Linked DNA regions of Homo sapiens. The protein of the gene in region 1 interacts with the protein of each later gene in a pairwise test. Each region holds a gene or a part of one and is shown on either strand. Other genes may lie near its edges.

Evidence for each region. Proteins that work in one complex are often made in the same cells at the same time.
Region 2: the proteins of ELOF1 (region 1) and C5orf22 interact in binary tests that used the Homo sapiens proteins (3 or more experiments, as listed by UniProt).

The regions. Positions count from the first base shown.
Region 1 is NC_000019.10:11,550,347-11,556,359, forward strand, and holds the end of ELOF1 (transcription elongation factor 1 homolog), read right to left. Parts: intron 5,230-6,013; exon of another isoform or gene 4,999-5,229; intron 4,908-4,998; exon of another isoform or gene 4,828-4,907; intron 4,020-4,827; 5' UTR 4,002-4,019; coding exon 3,886-4,001; intron 3,736-3,885; coding exon 3,665-3,735; intron 3,465-3,664; coding exon 3,400-3,464; 3' UTR 2,700-3,399; downstream 1-2,699. UniProt on the Homo sapiens protein: Factor involved in transcription-coupled nucleotide excision repair (TC-NER), a mechanism that rapidly removes RNA polymerase II-blocking lesions from the transcribed strand of active genes.
Region 2 is NC_000005.10:31,548,137-31,555,553, reverse strand, and holds the end of C5orf22 (UPF0489 protein C5orf22), read right to left. Parts: intron 7,065-7,417; coding exon of another isoform or gene 6,867-7,064; intron 4,262-6,866; coding exon 4,122-4,261; intron 2,782-4,121; coding exon 2,652-2,781; 3' UTR 501-2,651; downstream 1-500.

The DNA.
Region 1 (6,013 bases):
TTTAGATATGCGCCATATCCCGCACACACATCTGCACGGACACACATGCCCACATGCACCCTAAGACGTACATACACACTCACACGCACCCTAAGACACACACCTCACTGTAGCCACTCAGCTAGACACAGGACAGGCACCCCATCACACTCACATGCAAAGTCCACACACACACACACACTCCCCCCTTTCACACACAGATATGCACACACAGGCAGTACACACTCCCTACGACATGTAAAAAAGGCATAGCCAGCCGGGCACAGTGGCTCATGCCGGTAATCCCAGCACTTTGGGAGGCTGAGATGGGAGGATCACTTGAGGTCAGGAGTTCGAGACCAGACTGGCCAACATGGTGAAACCTTGTTTCTACTAAAAATACAAAAATTAGCAGGGTGTGGTGGCGCATGCCTGTAGTCCCGGCTACTTGGGAGGCTGAGGTAGGAGAATCACTTGAGCCCTGGAGATCTAGGCTGTAGTGAGCTGAGATGGCGCCACTGCATTCCAGCCTGGGCAACAGAGCAAGACTCCATCTCAAAAAAAAAAAAAAAAAAAAAAGGCACAGCCAGAGAGCCAATGCGCGCGCGCGTGCACACACACACACACACACACACACACACACACACACGACCCACACTGCTCTCCCAGAGGCTTGTGGATGGTGGTGACAAAGAGCCTGAGTACTGGGACAGGCTAAATGGCATGTGAATCACAGAGCAGCTGCCTGGATGACCTCGGGCAATCACTTTCCCTCCCTAGACCTGTTTTCCCATCAAAATAATGGGGACAGTAAGCCTCTTGTGGTCATGAAATGACACCCCCAGATGGGGTGATGTTCTACATGTTTAATCGCTGGTAAAGACCAGGCATCAATAGAGAAAGGATGACAAGTAGGGGTCCTGGTGGGCCCTGTGGGCAGGGTGAACCCTTTAGCCCCAGACTGTGGGGAGGGGAAAGGGGACAGGGAGAGGGGCACTTCTGAGCCAAGGCAATGGCCCTTTACTGACTGGCACAGGGCACCATAGGGCACGGTTAATTCTGTGCGCCCCGCCCGCTCTCAGCCGTCTTAAGGCTGAGCCTGCCAACCCGGGACTCTAAAAGGCTGTGTCCAGGGCCTCAACCTCCTCACATTTCAGAGGGGACCCTGTTATCCCCGGGAGGAGGGAGAGGTCCCCAACCATCAGGATTCCAAGGAGGAGAGGAGGCAGAGAAGCGAGGAGCGCGGCACGGAGCTGTCTTCTCCCCAGGGAGGGCAGGAGTTGAGGCTGGAACGTGGAGACCTGCGGAGGCAGACACCAGAAGACCCGCGCACAGACGCACGCAGCCCCTGGGGCCTCGTAAACCGGATTCCAGGCGCTTTTGGCCTGGCTACCGCAAGTCCTGCTCCCCCTGGGCCGGCGCGGGGAAGCTATGCTGAGGAGGATCCGGGCCTGGCCCAGGGCCCTGCCTCCTCGGGAAAACAGCACCATATTAGCACTTAGCCTGTGAGGCTGGGGTGGGCGGGCGGCAGGAAGGGCCTCGGGTGCCAGAGGAATGAGCCCCCTTTTTGCTGGATCCCAGAGGGCCATCACCCTAAACCTAGGTGCCTGTCCACCACTCTGCGCATGTGTGCCGGCTCCTGCCAGGGCTAGCAGACCTTACCTGGGATCTTGGAGGTGGCGGGATAACCAGGGAAGACATGTCATGGCAGAGTGGGCCTGAGGGGGTGCACAGGCCAGACCCAGCAGCCCAGTCTGGCAGCCAGGGCTTCCGGGCCAGCTCAATGTCTCCCCCCGCTGTTCACATCCGTCAGTGCCCTGGGTGGGCCCCAGAGCCGCTCAAACCATGCCTGGCACTTCCATCCTCAGCATGGCTCCGGGAAGAAGGTGCTTTCATCCCCTGCACTGTAGCAACGAGGACTCTGAAGCACAGGTCACCTGCCACCCGGGCTCATGAGGCCAGGTGGAGGGTCTGGCACTGCCCCAGGTTGCTGGGTGTTGTGGTCCTTGTCACCGGTGCGACCAGCTAAGGGGACATCAGCCCTCAGGTGCTCCCCATCGGCCACACACATCCCGCCCCAACACCAGCCTTCTGAGAGTCCTCACCACCCTTGAATAAAGGCCCCTTTCATGTTTCCCTCCCGTGTCCCTCTTCCACTCACTACCTCCAGAACGGCCTGTAAGCTGTTCCCTCAGCCTGGACTCTGGGCTCACAAGAAGTCAGACTGTAAGCTGTGGAGCCTCGTTTCCTGGGTTCAAATCCCCCCTGTGCCACTTTCTGGCTGTAGGGTCTTGGGCCAGTGACCTCCTTCACCTCTAGCCTCTGTTTCCTCATCTTTGAACTTGGGGTTAGCTTGGCACCTGCCCCACAAAGTGGCTGTCAGGACACTGGGGCGACGCAGGAAGGCCAGAGGTCAGCGTCTGGCTAGAGGTGGCCCTACGGTGTCACTGTCTCAGCCTGCCCCTCCCAGAAGCCTCCTCTGACCACCTGTTCTGTCTCACCTCCCCCATTTCCTATTGTGACTGCTGTAAACACCTGGCCAGATGTCTGCCTGCTCCACCACCCTGAATGCTTACTGACTGAATAAAACGCTGGGTGGTTTGAAGGGCTGGTCACATGGGCCACCAGGCCACCTCCCGAACGTCAGAGCCTCAGGTCCCCTCTCCTTCTTCTGGTGACCAGGCAGACGCAGAACCCAAGACATCACGGACAGCAAGGGATGTGCGCTGGCTGCTTTATTTAAGGGCTTGTGATTGACAGCTGTCCCCATCCCAGCCCTTGCTTCCTCTACAAAAGCAACTGAACATGAAACGGGCTTCCTGGTTACCATGGGGAGGGGGGCGGCTCCCTGTCAGGGCCCAGCCCAGGGACCTGGGGAACGGCGGCTTTGAATCCCCGGCCACGGGCACTAGAAGGTGGAGAAGGAGAGCGGGAAGTCCAGTTGAGATGGGCACGGTGCTGGTGAGGAGGCTGGAGAGGTCCTGTTCCAGCCTCTAGTGGGCTTCCCTTGTCCAGGATGTCAGGAAACAGTCCCCCAATTCCGCCGGGGGGAGCCAGAGCCCCAAGGCTGGGGGGCCAGGGGCTGCAGGGAACACAGCAAAGGCTTTCGGAGCCAAGTGAGATCAGTTCAGGCCCCTCAGGCCCAGGAACCCGACACCACCGCGTACCTGTGAGCACACACTCACGGCCACCCCAGTGACACGTGCAGCCACACACACCCACACTCACTCACACCCACACCCACACGCACACCCACTACACACACACACACACACACACACACACACACACACACACACACACACACGGCTGTGACAGCCCAGGACCCACACCCTGGACCCCTGGAATGTCTCTGGACCAGAACCGAACAGCTGGATCCACAGTACGCGGGGCTGCTCAGGGGGCGGGTCCTCTGTGTCGCTACTGATTGGCCGCCTCGCAGGCGTCTATCCAATCACTGTACACATCCACGGGTTCTGACAGATCTGGGCCACTTAGGTCAAGGGCGATCATTGGCATTGGAACCCTGCCCTGCATCTTCTCACCCCACAGAAATCACTAGGTGGCACCTGTTCCTCTGGACGGCTTTGGCCCTGCACCAGGGCACACAGTGGGCCAGATGAGCAGGGTCCGGACTCCAGCCCCCTCCCCACCCTCTGGAAAAAGCCCAGGTTTCCAAGGATACACGTTATGGGCGTCTGGAATTCCTCTAGGCACACGGTACAAGAGATGACTCCGGTGTTGCGGGCACGGTCCCTGAAACAGACCAAGAGAAGGGACTGGTGAGCAATGCGTCCTGGGCCTGTGGGTGATGACGCCTTCACCAAGGGAGGCAAGGGGCAGGATGGAGAACAGCGGGGAAGAGGCAGTGGGGAGGCTGGATCCCTTGCCCTGTTCCCCACTCACATTTTCACATCACAGGATTTCTCGTGGTTGCAGAAGGGGCAGGTGAACTGGGTCTCGAGGGTGCCTGTCATCTTCTTCTTGGGAGGCGGCTTTCGTTTTGACTTTCTGCGCCCCATGTCTGCAGGTGGATGAGCCTGTGGGGAGTGGCAGATGTCAGTGGTTTGAGGAAACCACGCAGCGCCCCAGCTCAATGCTCTAGAAAGCAGGCCGGAAAGAGGGTCTGGGACTTGCACCGTGGTCCCGGGGCCTCTGCCCTTGAGGGACGAGGCCCTCAGTCCTGATGCAGGAGGACAATTCCCTGTCCCACTCTGGATGGAAGGGGTGAGACGAGGCTCTAACCCCATCTCTCTCACTTACTGCGTGACCTGGGCAGGTTATTTAAGCTCTTTGTGCCACAGTTTCCTCGTCTATAAAACAGAGACAAGGCCAGGCATGGTGGCTCACACCTGTGATCCCAGCCAGCACTTTGGGAAGCTAAGGTGAGAGGATTACTTGATGCCAGGACCTGGATACCAGCCTGGGCAACATAGTGAGGCCTCATCTCTAAAAAAAAAAAATTAAAAATTAGCCAGGCATGGTGGTGCAGGCCTGTAGTCCCAGCTACTTGGGAGGCTGAGATGGGAGGATCGCTTGAGCCCAGGAGTTTCAGGTTTCAGTGATGATCCAGAGTTATGATCCAGGCACTGCACTCCAGCCTAGGCAACAGGATGAAACCCTGCATAAAAAAAAAAAAAGAAAAAAAAAAGGCCAGGTGTGGTGGCTCACACTTGTAATCCCAGGACTTTGGGAGGCTGAGGCGGGCGGATCACGAGGTCAGGAGTTCGAGACCAGCCTGACCAACACGGTGAAACCCCATCTCTACTAAAAATACAAAAATTAGCTGGCCATAGTGGCAGGCACCCGTAACCCCAGCTACTCAGGAGGCTGAGGCAGGAGACTCACCTGAACCCAAGAGGCGGAGACTGCAGTGAGCCGAGATCGCACCATTGCACTCCAGCCTGGGCAACAGAGCAAGACTCCGTCTCAAAAAAAAAAAAAAAAAAAAAGTCGAAATAAGGTTGCTATCTCAGAGGAGACTTGTGGGGCTGACACCAGGAATGGTAAGTTAAGTACTTAGCACAGAGCTGGCCCATCATCGCTGGCGCCAATACAAGGAAGCCACTGTTCCTGGGGAGGGTGGCACAAGAGACTCCAAGACAAGCCAGCTGTTCAGGGCCGGGTGGAGCCTAAGAGCCTAGGAACTGGTGATTTTATTCTGGCTGCTCCTCTTGGCAAAGGACATGTAAGTACCATCCAGGAGGAGTGACACTCAGGTTATCTGATGGCCTCGATCCAGATGACAGACTGCAGGGCAGAGAAGTGGGGACAGGCACTTCTGAGTAGAGGAACACTGTGTGAAGGCTCAGGGCAGCTGTCCGTCCCCTGGCAGGTGAGGGAGAGAGGAGGGACAGGTGGGAGGGTTCTGGGTGTTTGGATGGATCCTGGGAGCTACAAGGAGTGAAAGGACAAAGTCACCCTGTGCTTTTGAGGAACTGCGGTGTGAGCCATAATCTGGATGAAGACAAAGTCACAGCCAGGACAGGGCTGTTGGGGTAGAGATGGCAGAGGGTGAGAGAGACAGAGGAGACATGGCGGCAGAGTGAGTGAGTGTGACGAGAGAAGGAAAGTCCAGGATGACTCCCAAGGTTGTGGCGGGGACATAGTGGCTAGAGGGACAAGGTGGCATCATTCTCTGATGTCTAACACATAGGAAGGACAGGGTTTTGGAGAAAATGATGGGGTTGGGTGGCAGAGGGATATCTAGGAACAGATGTCCAGGAGGCAGGTGGGTGGGGAAACGGCAGCAGTTACCACTGAGCCCAACTCCCCTGCGAGGCACGGTGCTCAGGGCACTGTGTTTGCCATCCCTGAGCCTCCTATGGCGCCTCCTCCAACACACACACACACGACTGCTGGTTCTAGCATCGTTCCACTGTGACGGGGAGGTCAGCAGCCTGCCAGTGTCTTCCAGAATAAACAGTGGAGTTTCATTCATTATCTGCTGATCACTTCCTATGTAATACCCCCAACTCTTTCTTTTTTTTTTGAGATGGAGTCTTGCTCTGCCGCCCAGGCTGGAGTGCAGTGG
Region 2 (7,417 bases), on another chromosome or scaffold:
GCTCCTTGAGAAGCTAGAACACATAAAGACCCGTGCCTATAGGAAATATTTCTTTCTTTTTTTTTTTTGGAGACAGAGTCTGTCTCCGTCGCCCAGGCTGGAGTGCAGTGGTGCGATCTTGGCTCACTGCAAGCTCCGCCTCCTGGGCTTCCGCCATTCTCCTGCCTCAGCCTCCGGAGTAGCTGGGACTACGGGTGCTTGCCTACACGCCTGGAGAATTTTTTTTTTTTTTGTATTTTTGGTGGAGACGGGGTTTCACCGTGTTAACCAGTATGGTCTCGATCTCCTAACCTCGTGATCCGCCCACCTCGGTCTCCCAAAGTGCTGGGATTACAGGCGTGAGCCACCGCGCATGGCCAACTATAGGAAATGTTTCTAAAGAGATCTAAAATTGACAGTCAAAAGGTTATTATGAAAGGCTGGACTTAAATTTTTTCCCCGTAGATACTAGGAAATACACAACTTATTAAGTTAAAGTCTACGCTTACACTTAAGTCACATTTTTTAAAAAGCCACTAAAATCCCATGCTTTAATGATATTAGTACACAATTCAAAACACTGTACCACGGTATCCCCTCACTGGTACTCAGAACACAAATGAAACACATCTTGATAAAGTAAATACCTTCCTATTTGGAATGTGCAAGACATAATTTACTAAGTTGATTCTTTTCAACTATTAGGGACTGAATTTTATTCTCAAAGAGATGATCACAGAACATGAGAATTAAACAAACCTTCCTATAAAAGAAATGGATGCTTTTATTCAACCTGAGTTAAAACCACAATGAATCATATCAGAGTTCATGGGAATCATAATAAATGACTAGTAAACCACTCACAAAATCAAAGCTATCAACATACTAGGATCACACACATTAATTAGTGCTATAGTTCAAAACATACCCTTTAACTTATTTAGCACGCAAAATAATCATAAAAGTAATGTCTATAAGCTCTAACCAAAAATTTTAAAAATTAAAAATAGCACAATTCTACAATTCTGATTTTACCAAGAAAATAAACCTTTTTTGGCACATATTATCCTATGAAAATGGAAAGCTGAGTCAGGCTGCTCTGCTTTTCACAGCACAAATAAGCATTCATGCTATCAGACTTGGGAAATTAACTCGGTGACAAAAATTCACTGGAAAATAGAATCCTTGGAAAAATGGGGTCAGGTGCCATCCACTGTGAGGCAATGATAATGTGTGTCCTTCGTTATTAGCACAAAGTTAGGCAGCACACTATAATTTTAGCTACATGCAACTCTATAGGAACACATGTGGGTAAGGCCTGAAAGTTACAAGCAAGAGTGAAAAGAACTGCTGTGTTGGGACTGAGGAATGATGGGTGTTTGTTTTTCTTTAAATGTCATTTCACCTTTTAAAGGAAAATAAATCAAGTAGGTAGGTAAAAATTACTGAACTAAAGAGATACTAAAGATCAGAAGACTGGCCAATTGAGAAAATCAAGTTTCATGATTAAGAGTGACTCAGGAAGGATGTCTTAGTTATGAGGGGGGTGGTGGAAGACAGTTTATATCTTTGGGTATTTATGGCAGGTCAGAATTAAAGATTTAACTTTTTCCCTTACTCTTTACATAAAAAGCTGGTTTATCTGAAAAAAGTATCAATCTAGACTTGGCAATAAAGTGGCACTTAGGCACTATATTATTGATATCTACAATGACCTCCTGGATGCACAAGAGACCCTGAAGGGCTTTTTTGATCAGCAAAACAAAAACAGAAAAGCAAAAAACAGTTAATTTTTGTTTGGTCAAGTTTACTCAACCAGACCACCTTGATACCAACAATGCTGGAGAGCATTTGGCAAGAGCAGGGCCACAATGCCAAATTCCTTGGAAAGGTAGACTTCCTATGATACTTTCATGGATTGGCAAATTTGTGGGGTTTTTTTGGTAGTAGCTTTTGAGAATGTTAGTTTCTGGCTGGGGTAGTGACTTACATCTGTAATCCCAGCACTTCGGGAGGCGAAGGCAGGTGGATTGCTTGTGCCCAGGAGTTTGAGACCAGCCTGGGTAACATGGTGAGACCCCATCTCTATTTTTATAAAATTAAAAAAAAAAAAAAAGATAGAGAATGTTACTTTCCTATAAAGCCATGATACCCTAAGTACTAAGACATGTCTGTTGTTGTCCTTTCCTTCATAACATTTCTCATAACCCGTAATTTACTTCTCATCTGTCTCCCCTAAAAGGGCAGGGGCCTTGTCTATTCTGTTCATTACCATATACCCAGCACTTAATAATGTCTGGTACATGTAAGTGTTCAACAAATATTAGTTGAATGAATAAATGAAGTATGAATGAATCTCATACAGCTCAACAGACCTGGGGGAAAAGTGAAGACAAACAAACAAACAAACAAAAAAAAAAACAAAACCCTAAAAAATACTTAAGGAAGACAGATAAGCAACAGTTCTATCAGTTGGGGTTATGAGACTTGATGCCAAAAAATTTACCATCATTCACAACTGACAATGGTTGTTCAGAGATTCAAAATATCTGAAAGATTTCAACTGAAAGTTAATATAAAACAGTGTTCTCTGGAAGACTCATGTACAAATAAGTTAATTAAGGGCCTGTTACTAAACCAAGATACAACAGGAGCCTAATGTTTTGTTTGTTTCAAGATGGAGGAGACTCTGCTGCATACACTTGGAGGTCTAGATTTCCATAGAGGGCACGTAGCATATTGAGGACCTTTTCTTGAATAGTGTCAACTTGGTCAGAAGGACAGTAATCATCCAGACTTGACCTAGAACCAACAGAAAGAGAAAGAAGAAAAATACACATAGGATAAAATCATACTGTGAGGAAAAGCTGCATGTGTTCATTTCAATGTAAAACAGAAATTAAGGTGTGCTGAACTTTGGATTAATATCAATTGAAAGCTAGTGAAGGTTTACCCCATGTTAGTCACCTTACATAAATTATGTTCTTTAATTTTCACAGCAACTCTATGAAATAGGCACAATTACTATCCCTTTAAAGAAATCTGAAAGAGATTAACCTGTGCAAGGTGACATGCGGTGTGTGCCTTAATGCTTGATTGCTAGACCATTGTTTGCCTGAAAGTGAGATGTTGCTTGGGAATACAGGGGCTTATTATCTTAGCGATGGAACATCTTTTATTATGTGTGTGCTAGGGCTAGAAATGATGAGGGTCGAGGTTTTCCAACTGATAAAAGGATCCTATTTCTAAAAATGATTTGTTAACTACAAAATTATAAAGGATCCATGGCTTGGTCCAAAATGAAATGTGGCGATGTGCTGGTGTTGGATTTACTTTCCTAGGCAGTAGGAAGCAGAAAAGAGCAAAGTAGGTTGGGGCAGATATCTGTATTTTGGGAGTCTTTCCAGAACTTACCAACTGCAACCTGAGTTGCACTGGGCAGTTACAATGCTGCTGCCAGTTACAACTGGATTAACCAGTGTCTCCTGGTTCCGGATAAGGGTGAATAAAGCCTTCTAGAGGACAGAGTGAGAAGAGCAGCACAGAAATCTTTATAGAAGAACTGGAATTAGTTATCTGGCCTACTCCTTAGTACAAGTATTTCAAACCTAAAGAGATAATCTGTAAGACCACTGATAAACTCATTTTACGCTCTAGTGACCAGGTTATTTACCTACAGAGATTGTATTAGTTTCCTACTGCTGCTATAAAAAATCACCACAAACTTAGTAGCTTAAAGCAACACTAATTTATTATATAGTTTTGGAGGTCAGAAGTCCTAAAATAAAGGTGCTGACAGGGCTGCATTCTTTTTGTAAGATCCCAGGGATAATCTGTCCCCTGGCCTTTTCTAGCTTCTAAAGGCTGCCTGTGTTCCTTAGCTTGTGGCCTCCACCTTCAAAGCCCGAAGTGTAGAATTTTCGAATCACTCTCTCTGATTCTGACCCTCCTGCCTTTCTCTTCTAATGACCCTTGTGATTACACTGGGCCCACCTGATAAATCCAGGATAATCTCATCTCAAAATCCTTGAGTTAATCACACTGCGAATTTCCTTTTGCCATATAATGTAACATATTCACAGGTTCCAGAGATTAGGATGTGCACATCTCTGATTTGCCATTATTCTGCTGAACACACTTACCTTGCAATTGTCACAAGAGTAGGATTTGGTAAATTTTTCAGCAAATAATGCACAGATTGAATAAGACACTCTATTTCTTGTTCTGTGCTGATATGGTGAGGAAGTTCTGAATAATCGCAGGTTAAACCAGCCTGGTGAACCTGAAAATAAGACAATTAAAAATTACACTGTATGACAGTTGTTTTTATAAGCTTCTTTAATCATTAATGGCCTTATTGACAAATCTTTACTTTTATTGATACATAAAAGATGTGCATATTTTCAGGGTACATGTGATTCATAATAGCATATAAAGATCAAATCAGGGTAACTGGGATATCCAACACCTTAAATATGAAAAACTTTTAATTTTTAATATTTTTATGCATTGGGATTATTTTTTCCTTAACAGTTTCTATGTCATAAAAGTTATCTGCTCTCTGAAGTGTTGGTAGAACTCGCCTATATGCCTGTCTGGGCCAGATGCCTCTTTTTAGAATAATTCTTTAACTACTTCATTGGGCTTGGGTCAATTTTGGTAATTCACATTTTCTATCAAATTATCCATTTCATCTAGATTCTAAAAAGTTGAGGCCAGGCGTGGTAGCTCATGCCTGTAATCCCAGCACTTTGGGAGGCTGAGACAGGCGGATCACCTGAGGTCGGGAGTTGGAGACCAGCCTGACCAACATGGAGAAACCCCGTCTCTACTAAAAATACAAAATTAGCCGGGCGTGGTGGCACATGCCTATAATCCCAGCTTCTCCTGCTAAGGCAGGAGAATCACTTGAACACGGGAGGCAGAGGTTACAGTGAGCCAAGATCGTGCCATTGCACTCCAGCCTGGGCAACAAGAGCGAAACTCCGTCTCAAAAAGAAAAAAAAAAATTGTACATATTCTTATCTCATTTTTAACACATTATTTTACTTACTTTTTAAATATTAATATGTGCACCTAGTACTACATTCAAAGCTTTGAGAGGATACAAGAGAAAATATTTATCCTACCTTATTTAACCAAACTGTTTTCTTGTGTATCCTTTATGTATAACCATAAGCTACTGCTATCTACCTATGTGTTTTAAATTTGAATGGAATATGTTCTAGTCTTAGCACTACACTAAACTTGCCTGAAAGTTAGAAGTGGCTCACATGCTACCATTCTGCAACCTTAACTTTAATGTTTTGAAAACTGGAACTTAACTATGTCATAGTTTTGCCTAGAGTACGCAAGTGCAAAGTATGAAAAAACACACTAATCAAATATTTTATTGGAGGCTTTGGATACACATCAACAATTTAACTGGCAATGATCAGTCAGTGTGATAAAAGGATGAATTCTGGATGTTCATTTTGCCAAAATGATAAAACTATTTAGCGTTCTATCTCTGCAGCTGTAGGGCATATCATAATGGATTACATAATCTGTGACTGAGCCCTAGCCATTCCCTGCCCCCCAAAAAACATCAAACCCACCCAACGAAAAAAACCCAGATGCAATGTAATGATTAAAGCAGACCTGCCTGCAGACATATTTGATAATATTGTATGAATTCAAAGCATTTTCTTTCTCTTTTTAAATTTGACACAAAGTCTCACTCTGTTGCCCAGGCTGGAGTCCAATGGCAGGATCTCAACTCATTGTAACCACCCAGGCTCAAGCAATCCTCCTGCCTCAGCCTCTCAAGTAGCTGGGACTACAGGTGTGCACCACCACACCTGGCTAATTTTTGTATTTTTTGTAGAGATGGGGTTTTGCCATGTTGCCCAGGCTGGTCTCAAATTCCTGGGCTCAAGCGATTTACCTGCCTTGGCCTCCCAAAGTGCTGGGATTACAGGTATGAGCCACTGCTCCTGGCCTCAAAACATTTTCAAACCTTAAGTATCTTATAACGATCTTCTTAATTACCATTTTTAAAAAGTGTAAGTCTTGGAAGTGTTTATTCAGGGCAATTTGAATATATGCTCCCAGGGGAAAAAAAAAAAAGTTAAACAAAAAAGTTTAAGTCTTGGATTTGCTTAGGTTTCACCAAAATATTCTTTTGCTTTGCTCATTATATGGTTTGGCTGTATCTCCACCCAAATCTCACCTTGAATTGTAACTCCCACAATTTCCATGTGTCATGGGAGAAACCTGGTGGGAGGTGACTGTGGGGGTGGGTCTTTCCTGCACTGTTCTCATGATAGCGAATGAGTATCAGGAGATCTGACAGTTTTATTTATTTACTTTTTTTGAGACAGAGTTTCACTCTTTTTGCCCAGGCTGGAGTACAATGGCATGATCTTGGCTCACTGCAAACTCCACCTCCTGGGTTCAAGCGATTCTCTTGCCTCAGCCTCCCGAGTAGCTGGGATTACAGGGATGCGCCACCACGCCCGGCTAATTTTGTGTTTTTCATAGAGATGGGGTTTCTCCATGCTGGTCAGGCTGGTCTCGAACTCCCGATCTCAGGTGATCTGCTCGCTTCGGCCTCCCAAAATGCTGGGATTACAGATGTGAGCCACTATGCCCGGCTGGAGATCTGATGGTTTTAAAAACACAAGTCTCGCTGCACAAGCTCTCTCTTCTTGTCTGCTGCCATGTGAGATGTGCCTTTCACCTTCTGCCATGATTGTGAGGCCTCTCCAATCATGTGGAACACTAAGTCCATTAAATCTCTTTCTTTTGTAAATTGCCCAGTCTTGGGTATGTCTTTATCAGCAGCGTGAAAACAGACTAATACAGTAAATTGGTACCAGTAGAGTGGAGCACTGTTGAAAAGATACCTGAAAATGTGGAAGCAACTTTGGAACTGGCAGAGGTTGGAACAGTTTGGAGGGCTCAGAAGAAGGCAGGGAAATGTTGGACAGTTTGGAACTTCCTAGAGACTTGTTGAATGGCTTGGACCAAAATGCTGATAATGACATGGACAATGAAATCCAGGCTGAGGTGGTCTCAGATGGAGATGAAGAACTTGCTGGGAACTGGAACAAAGGTGACTCTTGTTATATTTTAGCAAAGAGACTGGTGGCATTTTGCCCCTGCCCTAGAGATGTGTGGAACTTTGAAGTTGAGAGATGATTTAGCATATCTGGTGGAAGAAACTGCCAAGCAGCAAAGCATTCAAGAGGTGACATGGGTGCTGTTAAAGGCATCCAGTTTTTTTTTTTTTTGAAATGGAGTCTCGCTCTGTCACCCAAGCTGGAGTGCAGTGGTACCATCTCGGCTCACTGCAGCCTTTGCCTCTCAGGTTCAAGCGATTCTCTGCCTTAACCTCCTGAGTAGCTAGGATTACAGGTGTGCACTGCCACACCCAGCTAAGTTTTGTATTTTTAGT